Linked DNA regions of Homo sapiens: regions 1, 3 and 4 are each reported to be linked to region 2. Evidence: microRNA targets listed by miRTarBase, many of them from high-throughput screens and not tested one by one. Region 2 holds a microRNA gene; each other region holds the end of a gene's coding sequence.

Evidence for each region. The annotated mature microRNA hsa-miR-3149 reads UUUGUAUGGAUAUGUGUGUGUAU and lies in region 2 at 1,589-1,611, opposite strand. An mRNA with a match to its seed (bases 2 to 7 or 8) in the 3' UTR can be bound and repressed. Matches are read on the target gene's strand: a 7mer-m8 pairs with bases 2 to 8, a 7mer-A1 pairs with bases 2 to 7 and ends in A, and an 8mer does both.
Region 1: miRTarBase lists ST13 as a target of hsa-miR-3149. Seed matches in the 3' UTR shown: 7mer-A1 at 396-402.
Region 3: the mRNA of ZEB1 is a reported target of hsa-miR-3149. Seed matches in the 3' UTR shown: 7mer-A1 at 764-770, 7mer-A1 at 771-777 and 7mer-m8 at 2,351-2,357.
Region 4: the mRNA of KIAA1549 is a reported target of hsa-miR-3149. The part of its 3' UTR that is shown has no 7-base or 8-base seed match.

The regions. Positions count from the first base shown.
Region 1 is chr22:40,823,679-40,826,863 of GRCh38, reverse strand. ST13 (ST13 Hsp70 interacting protein) reads left to right here. Exons shown (of 12, transcript NM_003932.5): 12 at 198-2,329. The coding sequence ends at 326. Among named protein-coding and RNA genes, the nearest start is that of SLC25A17, 5.9 kb to the right of the region's middle.
Region 2 is chr8:76,965,190-76,968,374 of GRCh38, forward strand. It overlaps MIR3149 (microRNA 3149), which reads right to left and starts at 1,661; the gene lies at 1,579-1,661.
Region 3 is chr10:31,526,636-31,529,820 of GRCh38, forward strand. ZEB1 (zinc finger E-box binding homeobox 1) reads left to right here. Exons shown (of 9, transcript NM_001174096.2): 9 at 37-3,169. The coding sequence ends at 629. Among named protein-coding and RNA genes, the nearest start is that of MACORIS, 180 kb to the right of the region's middle.
Region 4 is chr7:138,835,137-138,838,321 of GRCh38, forward strand. It overlaps KIAA1549, which reads right to left. Exons shown (of 20, transcript NM_001164665.2): 20 at 1-3,024. The coding sequence ends at 2,770. Among named protein-coding and RNA genes, the nearest start is that of ATP6V0A4, 39 kb to the left of the region's middle.

The DNA of each region.
Region 1 (3,185 bases), not on the chromosome of region 2:
TCAAAATTGTGCTTTTTTCATCATACAGTTCAAATGACTTAATTCAGCTTGATTTTGATACTTCAAGCACTCATCTAAACCCCATTTAACTTAACTATCACCAAATTACAGGTCTAAATAAGAGATGGAATTTAGGATAATAAACTTACTGACCCAGTAGGACACTTTTTAAATACTAATGAACCCTTTCTTTTCAGGATCCAGAAGTTATGGTGGCTTTCCAGGATGTGGCTCAGAACCCAGCAAATATGTCAAAATACCAGAGCAACCCAAAGGTTATGAATCTCATCAGTAAATTGTCAGCCAAATTTGGAGGTCAAGCGTAATGTCCTTCTGATAAATAAAGCCCTTGCTGAAGGAAAAGCAACCTAGATCACCTTATGGATGTCGCAATAATACAAACCAGTGTACCTCTGACCTTCTCATCAAGAGAGCTGGGGTGCTTTGAAGATAATCCCTACCCCTCTCCCCCAAATGCAGCTGAAGCATTTTACAGTGGTTTGCCATTAGGGTATTCATTCAGATAATGTTTTCCTACTAGGAATTACAAACTTTAAACACTTTTTAAATCTTCAAAATATTTAAAACAAATTTAAAGGGCCTGTTAATTCTTATATTTTTCTTTACTAATCATTTTGGATTTTTTTCTTTGAATTATTGGCAGGGAATATACTTATGTATGGAAGATTACTGCTCTGAGTGAAATAAAAGTTATTAGTGCGAGGCAAACATAACTCATTTGAGGATAAAGTTTGTGTTGGATATGTGGTTCCTGATGCATTTTGACTTGTCTTTTTAAATGCTTTATCTTTTTCTTTAAAGATTTATTTCAATAAAACTAATTGGGACCACCCGTATTTCAGTAGGACCTGGGTAGGGATTGGAAGTACTTGGCAGGGCAGCAGCAATCTTGCTGTGTTTGATATAACATGCATCCTTGGGCAGGTTGCCCTTAAATCTTACACTGTGGTGAAGGGATGTTTTTTTTGTAATGCTGCAGTAGAGTTGGAGTACTTAGTTCTCTTGTTGTCCAGTATATCTAATAAGTGTTTTTCATATTATTTCCACGTAAGGGAAATAAGGTAGTACTTTTCTTTTTATATTTCTATGCTTAAAATTCTCTTTCCTAGTCAAAAATTGCCCAAATCTGTGTTTGCTTTCTGCTTGCTACATTTGTCTCCCTTACTTTTCTTGAGCTAAAGACAGGCTTTTTCCACCGGCATCATCACTGCTATCATCATTAACAGCGTAATTATACAAGCATATTTAATGCTGAGTTTAATTTAATATGTAATACATATGGTAATTGTAGGGTAATACCCACAACAACTGTAGTTTCTTACTTGGCCAAGAGAATGCTTATTTAAGTGTTAGACTTCCATTCTGGCAAAATCTTGCCTTATCAGAAGACATTGGAAAGAGGGATTCCCTTTGGTGTTTGGTCTTCTACTTAGAAAAACCTATTGCAGTTAGTTTATCTTGTAGTATTCATCTTTGTATTCTGAAGATAAGGTTTGAATTAAATTGATACACACAGAGGGGAACCGATTTTTTTTATCCAATGTGAATTATAAATGAGATAATCCACAGTTATTCATTGTGGAGTTGTTGAGACTATGAAAGACTCATTGTCTTTGTATTCAGCTCTTAAATAGTGTAACTATATCCCCACCTCTGCTTGCTTTCTTTCCCTCCCCTCCAATGATAAAGAAAATGATAAATTTTCTGTTGTGCATTCAATTCTTATTTTAAATAAGACTAAGTATAGGCATTGTACCTGACATTGCTACGTTTCTACCAGTGTTTCAATTTAAAGTGCTAGTGTTTAAAAACATTTTCAAGGGATAAGGCCTTCTGTACTTTGCTTATTTGAAGAATCAGTGGTAGGAGCAGTGAAGTAAATTCTATGGAGTACATTTCTAAAATACCACATTTCTGAAATCATAAATAAGTTTATTCAGGTTCTAACCCTTTGCTGTACACAAGCAGACAGAAATGCATCTGTTACATAAATGAGAAAAAGCTATTATGCTGATGGAGCATGCTTTTTAAATCCTTTAAAAACACTCACCATATAAACTTGCATTTGAGCTTGTGTGTTCTTTTGTTAATGTGTAGAGTTCTCCTTTCTCGAAATTGCCAGTGTGTACTTGGCTTAACTCAAGAACAGTTTCTTCTGGATTCCTTATTTGATTTATTTAACCTAATTATATTCTAATATTGCAAATATTACCATAAGTGGGTAAAAGTAAAATTCCTCTTCTGAAAATGTGTCCTGTGCTTTTAGATTTTTAAATTCCATAATATACATTCTTAATTTTCAACTCAATATTCTAAACCAGAAATGTTTTCTTGTACTGATGCTATCAGAAGGAAGTTTTTTCTGCTTAAAAATATAGTTATATTTCTAGCTGTCTTTAAAATACGGTTTCAAACTAGATATTGGGCAGGTGCGGTGGCTCACGCCTGTAATACCAACACTTTTGGGAGGCCGAGGCGGGCAGATCGTCTGAGGTGAGGAGTTCAAGACCAGCCTGGCCAACATGGCGAAATCCCGTCTCTACTAAAAATACAAAAACTAGCCAGGCATGGTGTTGGGCACCTGTAATTCCAGCTACTCGGGAGGCTGAGTCAGGAGAATCACTTGAACCTGGGAGGCAGAGGTTGCAGTGAGCTGAGATCACGAAACACAGTCTCAAAAAACAAAAACTAGTTTTTAATTTCCCCCCCCACCCCCGACTTTTTGTAGCATATGTTCTATTTTATGTCTCTGGTACTCAGGTTATTTACTAGGTATATTAGGCTGCAGACTATTAAGTGCTGCAAACAAGAACCCCTAAAAAACATGTACTTTATTTTGGGTAGCTGTTCAGAGGCAGGCATTCTGCCATACTTAGAAGGTAGCTTCCATTTCTAGTCCAAAGTTGCTTGCTCTGGTGCTCATTCTCCAATTGAGGAAATAGGAGAAGGGGGCTCTGGGAAACACGCTGAGATACTGAAGATAATATATGATGTTAACATTTTATTACTTCTAATATCCCATTGGTCAGTTTGTGTGTTCAGGCTATGTTTAGCTGCAGGGAAAGCCAGTTTGTCATCCATAACTGTGTGATCACATGCTCAAGAAAAAACTTAAGAGTAGAAACAGGAAAGACGACTTGGGGTGACACCTAGCAGTCTACCAT
Region 2 (3,185 bases):
TAGTCTTTTGTAATAGACTTATATAACTATAAAAATATACATATTCTGTATTTAGGAAAACAGGATGATATTGTACATTCTGTTTATAACCAACTTTTACTTTTTACTAAATAATAGATAAGAAAAACTACATGTTTTTACAGCATGGTTTATTTAGTGTATCTCCTTTGAGAGATTTTTGGTTGTTGGCAATTTTCACCATAGTAAATAGAGATGCACATCCTGGTAAATAAATCCCTCTATTAGTAGTATTAAATTATAGAACTATAATTTCTTGTGAAAAAGGAGGCATTTTCTAAAGCTGCTGATGCATATAACCAATCTGCTCTCCAAAAAAATTTACACTGATACAGTAGTTTAAGAAGATGCTAGCTTCTCTATACTCTCAACAATACTTGGTATTTTTATTAAAAAATCACCACCAGAAAGTAGCTTTGCCAATATGTAAGTTAAAATTAGCATCTCCAGTGTTTTCCCTTTCCCTTGATATTCATTCTTCTAGTCATTCAACAAGTAATTATTGAGTATGACCATGGATGAGGCACAATGTTGAGTCCTGAGAAAACAATAATAACTCTTCCCTTTCTGAATCACTATTCTCCCTTTCTTGAGTCAAAGAAAGTCTGGACAAGGGCTTTTCCTCTCAAGTATCCAAGTATCTCAAGAATATACTATATCTCTCCTATTTCTCAATTATATCTACTCAGGACATTCTAGTTGGTTTCTATTCTCATATCGCCCCTACTTTAAGTGGTAGTTCCATATGCATGACCTTTTTTTGAAATTTTTTTGACACAATTCTGATTTTTGTTGAAAGCAGTGTATTGCAGAGGGTATGGACAAGCCAGTTAAACAATGAGCCTCTGGTAGCAATTGTGAGATAAAATTGAAGGGCGATTGGGTGTTGTAGAAAGAGGGTAGATTTTGCATCAGAAAGACCTTAGTTCTCACCCTTGCTGTGTATGTAACCTTGGGAAAATTACTTAGTTGCCTCTTTTGTAAAGAGTGGCTTATAACACATCTCAGAATAAAAAGTTCTAAAAGGGTACCAGCCACCTGGTAGAATGATGAATTTTTGGTTCATTTCGGCCAAAATTTGTTTGCTACTTGGTCTGTCCTCTTTCAACAGCCTTTTCTCTAGTTTTGTTTCCCTTTTTCTTCCAAGGCATCCTTAGCCTTTCCTAGTGGCCCTGGAAAAATCTCAATTTGGGATTACCAGCCTGGGCTTTCTTTCCTAAAGGATGTCTTATGTTATGACTCCATCTTCACCTTGTTCTTGCATAAAATTCTTTTCTCACGGGACCCTGTTTTCCATAGTGATTAACTAGTTTTCAGGGAAACTGTGAGTTTCTTAAGGGCAGAAAACATGTCCTGTATTTACTGTCTTTGCATCCTTGATGCTTACCTAGCAGTGTCTGGCAGACTGTGAGTCCTTGATGATTATCTGTTGAATGAATGACTACTCATCTAAACTTGGATGTTAGGGGCTCAGGTGTTAAATCTCAAGAACTTATATACTCTTAAGATATTCTTAAATGTTATTGTTTTCAGACATGAGGAAATCTGTCGGTTCTGTGTATACACACACATACACACACATATCCATACAAACATATATATATGTATGTGTGTGGATGACATGTGTGTGTACATGTATGTATATCCCATTTTGATGTCCTTTTTAAATTTCTTTACCTGAAGATATCCTACATACCTCAAGACTAAACCGAAATATCTTTGTCCCTGGAAGGCCTCTACAGGTCTCTGATGAAATAAATCACTCATTTCTCAATGCTCTCCAAGCACTTTGTCTATTTACTCCCATTGCCTTTTCCTTTGGTAGACTCTAATCTTTGGATTCTTAATGCCCAACATACTGAAAAAAAAATATTGAAAAAAGTGTTCACTAATCATTTGGCTGAATGAGGAGGGAGGCTAGGCTTAATCATTCATGTGGTCTTAAGTTTTAGCTTGTATAAAGGAGAAGCCAGTTTACAATGAACTTAGAGGGCCAGATGCAGTGGCTCACACTTATAGTCCCAGCACTTTGGGAGGCCGAGGCGGATTGCTTAAGGCCAGGAGTTCAAGACCAGCCTCTGTAACATGGCAAGACCCCCGCCTCTAAAAAAAATAATAAAAATAAAATGAACATGAATTTAGAGGATAGTAAGTAAAAAGAGGTAATGTGTAAAAAATAATTAGTGGTTAGGGAGATGAGGAAATAGAATAGATTTTGATTGGTGGTTCTATAGTTTACGGATGTATGTGTCCGAGCCACCTTTCTCCCACTCCAGCTGCCTCTAATCTCTGACTGGTGCTGGCAGGAAATCCACAACAGAAGGCAGCACATTGCATGGAATTTACGTTATAGATAATGCTCTGCCCTTATAGACATACTACTTTCAATTGATGATTAAATGCCAGGAACCATGGCAGAGCTAAGGGCAGATATTTATACCTCTAAAACACAAGCGGAGACCTCTGCATAGGAGTGGCCCTGCAGAGACCAAGTCCATGGGCATTACTTACTTAACTCATTAAAGGAAATACGTGGGTAACCAGAGCTGCAATGGAAGGCAGAGGAGTAAATAAGGACCAGCTTCAGAACCAAACTGGTTATCTTGAAAATCTATCACTTCACCCTTGCAATAGCTCATAACTCTGTATTGTAAGTAAATTCAATTATCATGCTTTTGATTCAACCTTTCAATCCAAGGACGATGTTCTTAAAAAAATTGGACTTTAATTTCATAAGCCTTCTAGGAGATGTTTAATCTTCTGAGAGAAGTCTTTTGTACTTCTGAGAAATTTTCATTTATCATATATGTCCTTAGACCATCACTGAGTCTGCAGGCTTTCCCCCACTCTTATCTCCATATTTTATACTGAATACCTATCTTCCACTTCTCAACCTTGAAACATTAGACAAAACCACACTCAAGTTATCAGTGGAAGAAATCTACCTGAGGAAAATTCTCGGGAGCTCCATTAATTGACAGATGGACACTTCCTGAATTTCCCCCAGCCCTCTGCCTGACTTCCTTACTCTGGGGTAAAAAAACAGTGAATTTAAGCACGATTGAAGAAAAAGGATTTAGGTTTGGGAAAACTTTTGTTTCTCTTAATATTTCTGCTTTGATTCCAGGGAAAAGAATGAATGTCATTGTTTCAAATACGAAGAAATC
Region 3 (3,185 bases), not on the chromosome of region 2:
ACCACCATTTTATTTAACAGAATTCTTATTTTGCAGGTAAAAGACCTCATGAGTGTGGAATCTGTAAAAAGGCATTTAAACACAAACATCATTTGATTGAACACATGCGATTACATTCTGGAGAAAAGCCCTATCAATGTGACAAATGTGGAAAGCGCTTCTCACACTCTGGGTCTTATTCTCAACACATGAATCATCGCTACTCCTACTGTAAGAGAGAAGCGGAAGAACGTGACAGCACAGAGCAGGAAGAGGCAGGGCCTGAAATCCTCTCGAATGAGCACGTGGGTGCCAGGGCGTCTCCCTCACAGGGCGACTCGGACGAGAGAGAGAGTTTGACAAGGGAAGAGGATGAAGACAGTGAAAAAGAGGAAGAGGAGGAGGATAAAGAGATGGAAGAATTGCAGGAAGAAAAAGAATGTGAAAAACCACAAGGGGATGAGGAAGAGGAGGAGGAGGAGGAAGAAGTGGAAGAAGAAGAGGTAGAAGAGGCAGAGAATGAGGGAGAAGAAGCAAAAACTGAAGGTCTGATGAAGGATGACAGGGCTGAAAGTCAAGCAAGCAGCTTAGGACAAAAAGTAGGCGAGAGTAGTGAGCAAGTGTCTGAAGAAAAGACAAATGAAGCCTAATCGTTTTTCTAGAAGGAAAATAAATTCTAATTGATAATGAATTTCGTTCAATATTATCCTTGCTTTTCATGGAAACACAGTAACCTGTATGCTGTGATTCCTGTTCACTACTGTGTAAAGTAAAAACTAAAAAAATACAAAATACAAAACACACACACACACACACACACACACACACACACACACACAAAATAAATCCGGGTGTGCCTGAACCTCAGACCTAGTAATTTTTCATGCAGTTTTCAAAGTTAGGAACAAGTTTGTAACATGCAGCAGATTAGAAAACCTTAATGACTCAGAGAGCAACAATACAAGAGGTTAAAGGAAGCTGATTAATTAGATATGCATCTGGCATTGTTTTATCTTATCAGTATTATCACTCTTATGTTGGTTTATTCTTAAGCTGTACAATTGGGAGAAATTTTATAATTTTTTATTGGTAAACATATGCTAAATCCGCTTCAGTATTTTATTATGTTTTTTAAAATGTGAGAACTTCTGCACTACAAAATTCCCTTCACAGAGAAGTATAATGTAGTTCCAACCCGTGCTAACTACCTTTTATAAATTCAGTCTAGAAGGTAGTAATTTCTAATATTTAGATGTCTTAGTAGAGCGTATTATCATTTAAAGTGTATTGTTAGCCTTAAGAAAGCAGCTGATAGAAGAACTGAAGTTTCTTACTCACGTGGTTTAAAATGGAGTTCAAAAGATTGCCATTGAGTTCTGATTGCAGGGACTAACAATGTTAATCTGATAAGGACAGCAAAATCATCAGAATCAGTGTTTGTGATTGTGTTTGAATATGTGGTAACATATGAAGGATATGACATGAAGCTTTGTATCTCCTTTGGCCTTAAGCAAGACCTGTGTGCTGTAAGTGCCATTTCTCAGTATTTTCAAGGCTCTAACCCGCCTTCATCCAATGTGTGGCCTACAATAACTAGCATTTGTTGATTTGTCTCTTGTATCAAAATTCCCAAATAAAACTTAAAACCACTGACTCTGTCAGAGAAACTGAAACACTGGGACATTTCATCCTTCAATTCCTCGGTATTGATTTTATGTTGATTGATTTTCAGAATTTCTCTACAGAAACGAAAGGGAAATTTTCTAATCTGCTTTATCCATGTACTTGCATTTCAGACATGGACATGCTATTGTTATTTGGCTCATAACTGTTTCCAAATGTTAGTTATTATGGACCCAATTTATTAACAACATTAGCTGATTTTTACCTATCAGTATTATTTTATTTCTTTTAGTTTATAGATCTGTGCAACATTTTTGTACTGTATGTCTTCAAACCTGGCAGTATTAATACCCTTCTTACTGACATATGTACTTTTAGTTTTAGAAAACTTTTATATTTATGTGTCTTATTTTTATATTTCTTTATTTATTACACAGTGTAGTGTATAATACTGTAGTTTGTATTAATACAATAATATATTTTAGTATGAAAATTTGGAAAGTTGATAAGATTTAAAGTAGAGATGCAATTGGTTCTCCTGCATTGAGATTTGATTTAACAGTGTTATGTTAACATTTATACTTGCCTTGGACTGTAGAACAGAACTTAAATGGGAATGTATTAGTTTTACAACTACAATCAAGTCATTTTACCTTTACCCAGTTTTTAATATAAAACTTAAATTTTGAAATTCACTGTGTGACTAATAGCATGATGCTCTGCAGTTTTATTAAGAAATCAGCCTAACCATACAACTCTCATTTCCTTAGTAAGCCAAATTAGGATTAACTTCTATAAACAGTGTTGGGAACAATGTTTAACATTTTGTGCCAATTTGTTCCTGTATTCATGTATGTAAGTTACAGATCTGACTCTTCATTTTTAAGTTCCTTGTTACATCATGGTCATTTTCTAGTTTTTTACCAGACTCCCATCTCACAATAAAATGCATCAACAAGCCTGAACTGCTGTCATTCTTTTCATCATTATCAGTATTTTCTTTGGAAAACTGTGAAATGGGGTACATTGTCATCCTGCATTTGATTCATCTTGAGCTGAATTTGGGTAACACTAAATGTTTTAGACATTCTCCACTAAATTATGGATTTTCTTGTGGCTAAATGTTTCTGGAGAGGTCAGAGTTGACAAAACCTCTTCACAGGTTGCTCCTTCTTCCTGAAATCCTTAATCCTCCGCATTTCATGCTTCAGGTCATTTCAGGGAAGCCTGGGTTTAGATGCCTTTCTGACTCTCAGCTCCTGCACTTCTGTCATCATACCTCTGATACTATTATTTATATTCCTTCCCCACTAGGAACAGGAACCACATTTGTCATAGTCACTCTCACATTCCTCACTGCCTAACAGGGTGCCTGGCATAAGTTGGGACAACAGATATTTGTTGAATAAAAATATAATTTGCATGTTTATGGAGCTCAGCTATGTTCTCACTTTTTTTGCTTCTAATTCCAGAATATATGTTAAATGATCTAATAATTTGATTATTTTCTTATAAGTCTTATTAAACACTAGTCATAATAGACACAATAAATTATGCCTTCTTTTTCTATTGCCTTACTATTT
Region 4 (3,185 bases), not on the chromosome of region 2:
GACCCTTCCTTTCAGTGGATGACGTGAACTTAATGTCTGAAGACCGCTAGGGTACGGTGCTGCTCACACAGCTAGTTTTTTCTGAGTTTGGTGACTGGCAAAACTGTTGTGGCAGGCGTCGAGAGGAAGCAAGTACAAACTGTGTGTGCTTTATGACCACCAGCAGAGGGCTGGTGATCCGGGGGCCTGCTCACACCACACCATAACCACCGGCTGTTTATTATACATCATCTTTGGTCTTGACATCTGTTTAAAGGTGTATTGTTTCTAAGAATAAAAATACAGTTAAAATCCCTTTATGGTAGTTTGAAAGACATCAAAATTGCTTTTACGGTCAGCCCAATTTGAAACAGAACCCTCTTTCTGCAATGCTCAAAGGAGGTTACCATTTTTAGCACACTCTATGTGCAAGCCTGTATGGCCCTGAGCGGAACTGGGTGAGAAGGGGCCATTTATCCCGTTTGCTGTCACACGATTTGAATTCATTACAAGGTGTCCATAATAAAATTCTGCTTGGATATCTGAAATTCTTAATAACATATTCAGGAAACCTGGTATTTTTGAGTGACATACAAAGATAATCGTTCAATTTGGGAGGAGTCGGGTATTAAACCAAGACCAAGAGAAATTTGGTATTAAACCAAAACCAAGACATCAAGCCCAGAAAGGGGCATTCTCTCCAATGCTCCTTGGAGCCTCTGAGGATCGCCTGATAAGATGCTGCTGGTCCTTTGTTGAACGTCCTTGAGAGACTTACTCTCCTGCACTCCTTCTCTTTCAGAGGTGCCCAGATGAAAACTGGCTACATCTTACCTTCCCAGAACCAACTTCCCTCATATTGTAAGACTCTAAATCTGTACAACAGGCTTCATTAATGAAGGGCTAAAACATGGTTTTGAAATCCAGTGATTACACTTTGGAAACCTGTTTTAGCTGTTTCAGGGGTCTTAAAACTTGACACAGATACACAGGTTTTGATCAGTCAGAGCCCCAAATTCTATAGCCCCTTATCTGTTATTTAATGAAAAGTACAGTCATGCACACATCAGGATGTTTTGGTCAATGACGGTCTACATATTGATGGTAGTCCCATAAGATTATAAAATTGTATTTTTACCATACCTTTTCTATGTTTAGCTATGTTTAGATACACAAATACTTACCATTGTGTTCAGTACAGTAACATGCTGTACAGGTTTGTAGCCTAAGAGGAATAGGCCATGCCACACAGCCCAGGTGTGTAGTAGGCTATACCATGTAGGTTGTGTAAGTACAATCTAGGATGTTGGCACAGCAACAAAACAGCCTAATGACACATTTCTCAGAATGCATCCCCATCATTAAGCGATGCATGACTGTCTTCGCTGATCTAATAAAAACAGGTTAATAGTGAAAATCTCTTAGCTAAGCCTGCTTTTCTTCTGAGTTTCACTCAGGTACCAGAAAACAGAACAGCCCTTGCCACTGTTTTCTTTACCATTATTTGGAAAGTGGGGGAAATGTTTACATCAGGAGTACATCTTAAGCGAGATGATCCCCTCTTAGCCCAAAGAGCATAAGACAATTTTAATAGCCACTCGACAGAGTAACAGCACAATAAAATCAGAAATGAGAAGCAACTCTCTCCTTTCCCTTGGGGTCTCAAAGCTCTTTTACATTTCTTGATTCATTACAGAGAGGCTGAACTGAACTCAATTTCATTTCCAGGCTCTGAACACAGGGAATGTGACTGGTAGGGATGTATGTATAACAATTTCGTGGTGCTGGGAATTATTAAATAACTTCTGCTTACAGAAGATTTCTCATTCAGACATAATTTGTGAACAAATCAACAGCAAAGTGGAAGAAAGGATCAGTTAGGACCTCTTGAAAGCCGCATTCTACAGGATCGGCCTTAGCGATCGGTGCTGAACTGGGACATGACCAGGAGTTGTGTGTGCCCAATTAAGAAACAGCAAATACAATGAAGAATGTAGATCTAAACTTTGATCTGTATTTTGGATAATCAAATAAATATAAAGCTTTTTGCCCCACTTTGGGAGGGATTTTTTTTTTCTAGAACAAAATGAAACCTTCAACATATTCTTCCACTGAAAAAGCCAAAGTTCCATTTCAGACATGAAGGTGAAGGGCCCTTGGAGCTGTAGCACCAGAAGAAGGAGGAAGAATGCGGGTGATGGCTTTGTTTGGAGTCATCAGGCTCTACAACCTATCATTTGGTTTCTCACTAGTAGCTTTTTAAAATTCCCAAACAGTCTTAGTATTCTTGTTGTTAATGTTACTATTAAAATAAGTTCCTATGGAGTAAAAGAGAAAAATTAAGCTGTTAATAAAATGTCTTCAAACCTCTTCTCAGAAAACAAAGCAGCAGGTTCATCGTACACGTACCAGTCTCAATCCCACAGAAACGCTTGGTTCCTTTCATCCCTATGCTGTCTATACAGTTTAATCTCTACCTTTAAAAAAGAGACGAATGCAGTCATTTTGTTAGCTTAGGTTTGTGTTTTGTTTTTGTGAAGTGCTGCTGGCTTTTGGCCAAAATACATATATTTCAACTGAACCCAAGTGTTCAGACAATTGCCAGCCCAGTGAAAGGCTCATGAGCTGTCACACGACGTATGGCATCTTCTAAATTGCAACTTGCTCCCTCCCTTGGGCAGGCTGCCCGAGAGTTGCTCCTTCCTCTTCCAAACACCCACTCAGTTGATTTCCTTTTGGTCTTGCTTCCACAGGAAGCGGATACTTGGCAAATCTGCGAGGCGAGGCCGATCAGCTGTGGAAGTTCTGCACGGTGCTCTGTTTCTGGGAGAGCCGGAGGAGCTCCTCGCGGATTGCTTTGATGAGAGAGGCCGAGGAGTGGCCAGGCTGGAGGTCTTCCGTGGAGCTGGTGGGGTAACCCAGCCCAGGGCCCTGCAGTCCCCGGTGGGGGAGGTTCCCGGAAGGAGCTGAGGGCTCCCTGCCTGAAGTCCTTGGCACCTGAAATAGCGGTGAAGAAGAATACTCTTGATGTCCGAGCATGTGTGTCTGAAAAACATGGCAAACGTCACTGTACTTCCTACGAAGAATAAGCCGAAACATCAAATGCAAACTGGCTTTAGGAAGGTTCCCAGGACTGCCCACGTCCATCCACCAACTCAGCCCTCTAACAGGGCCCTGCTGCCTATGCTGCAGGTGAGGCGTGAAGA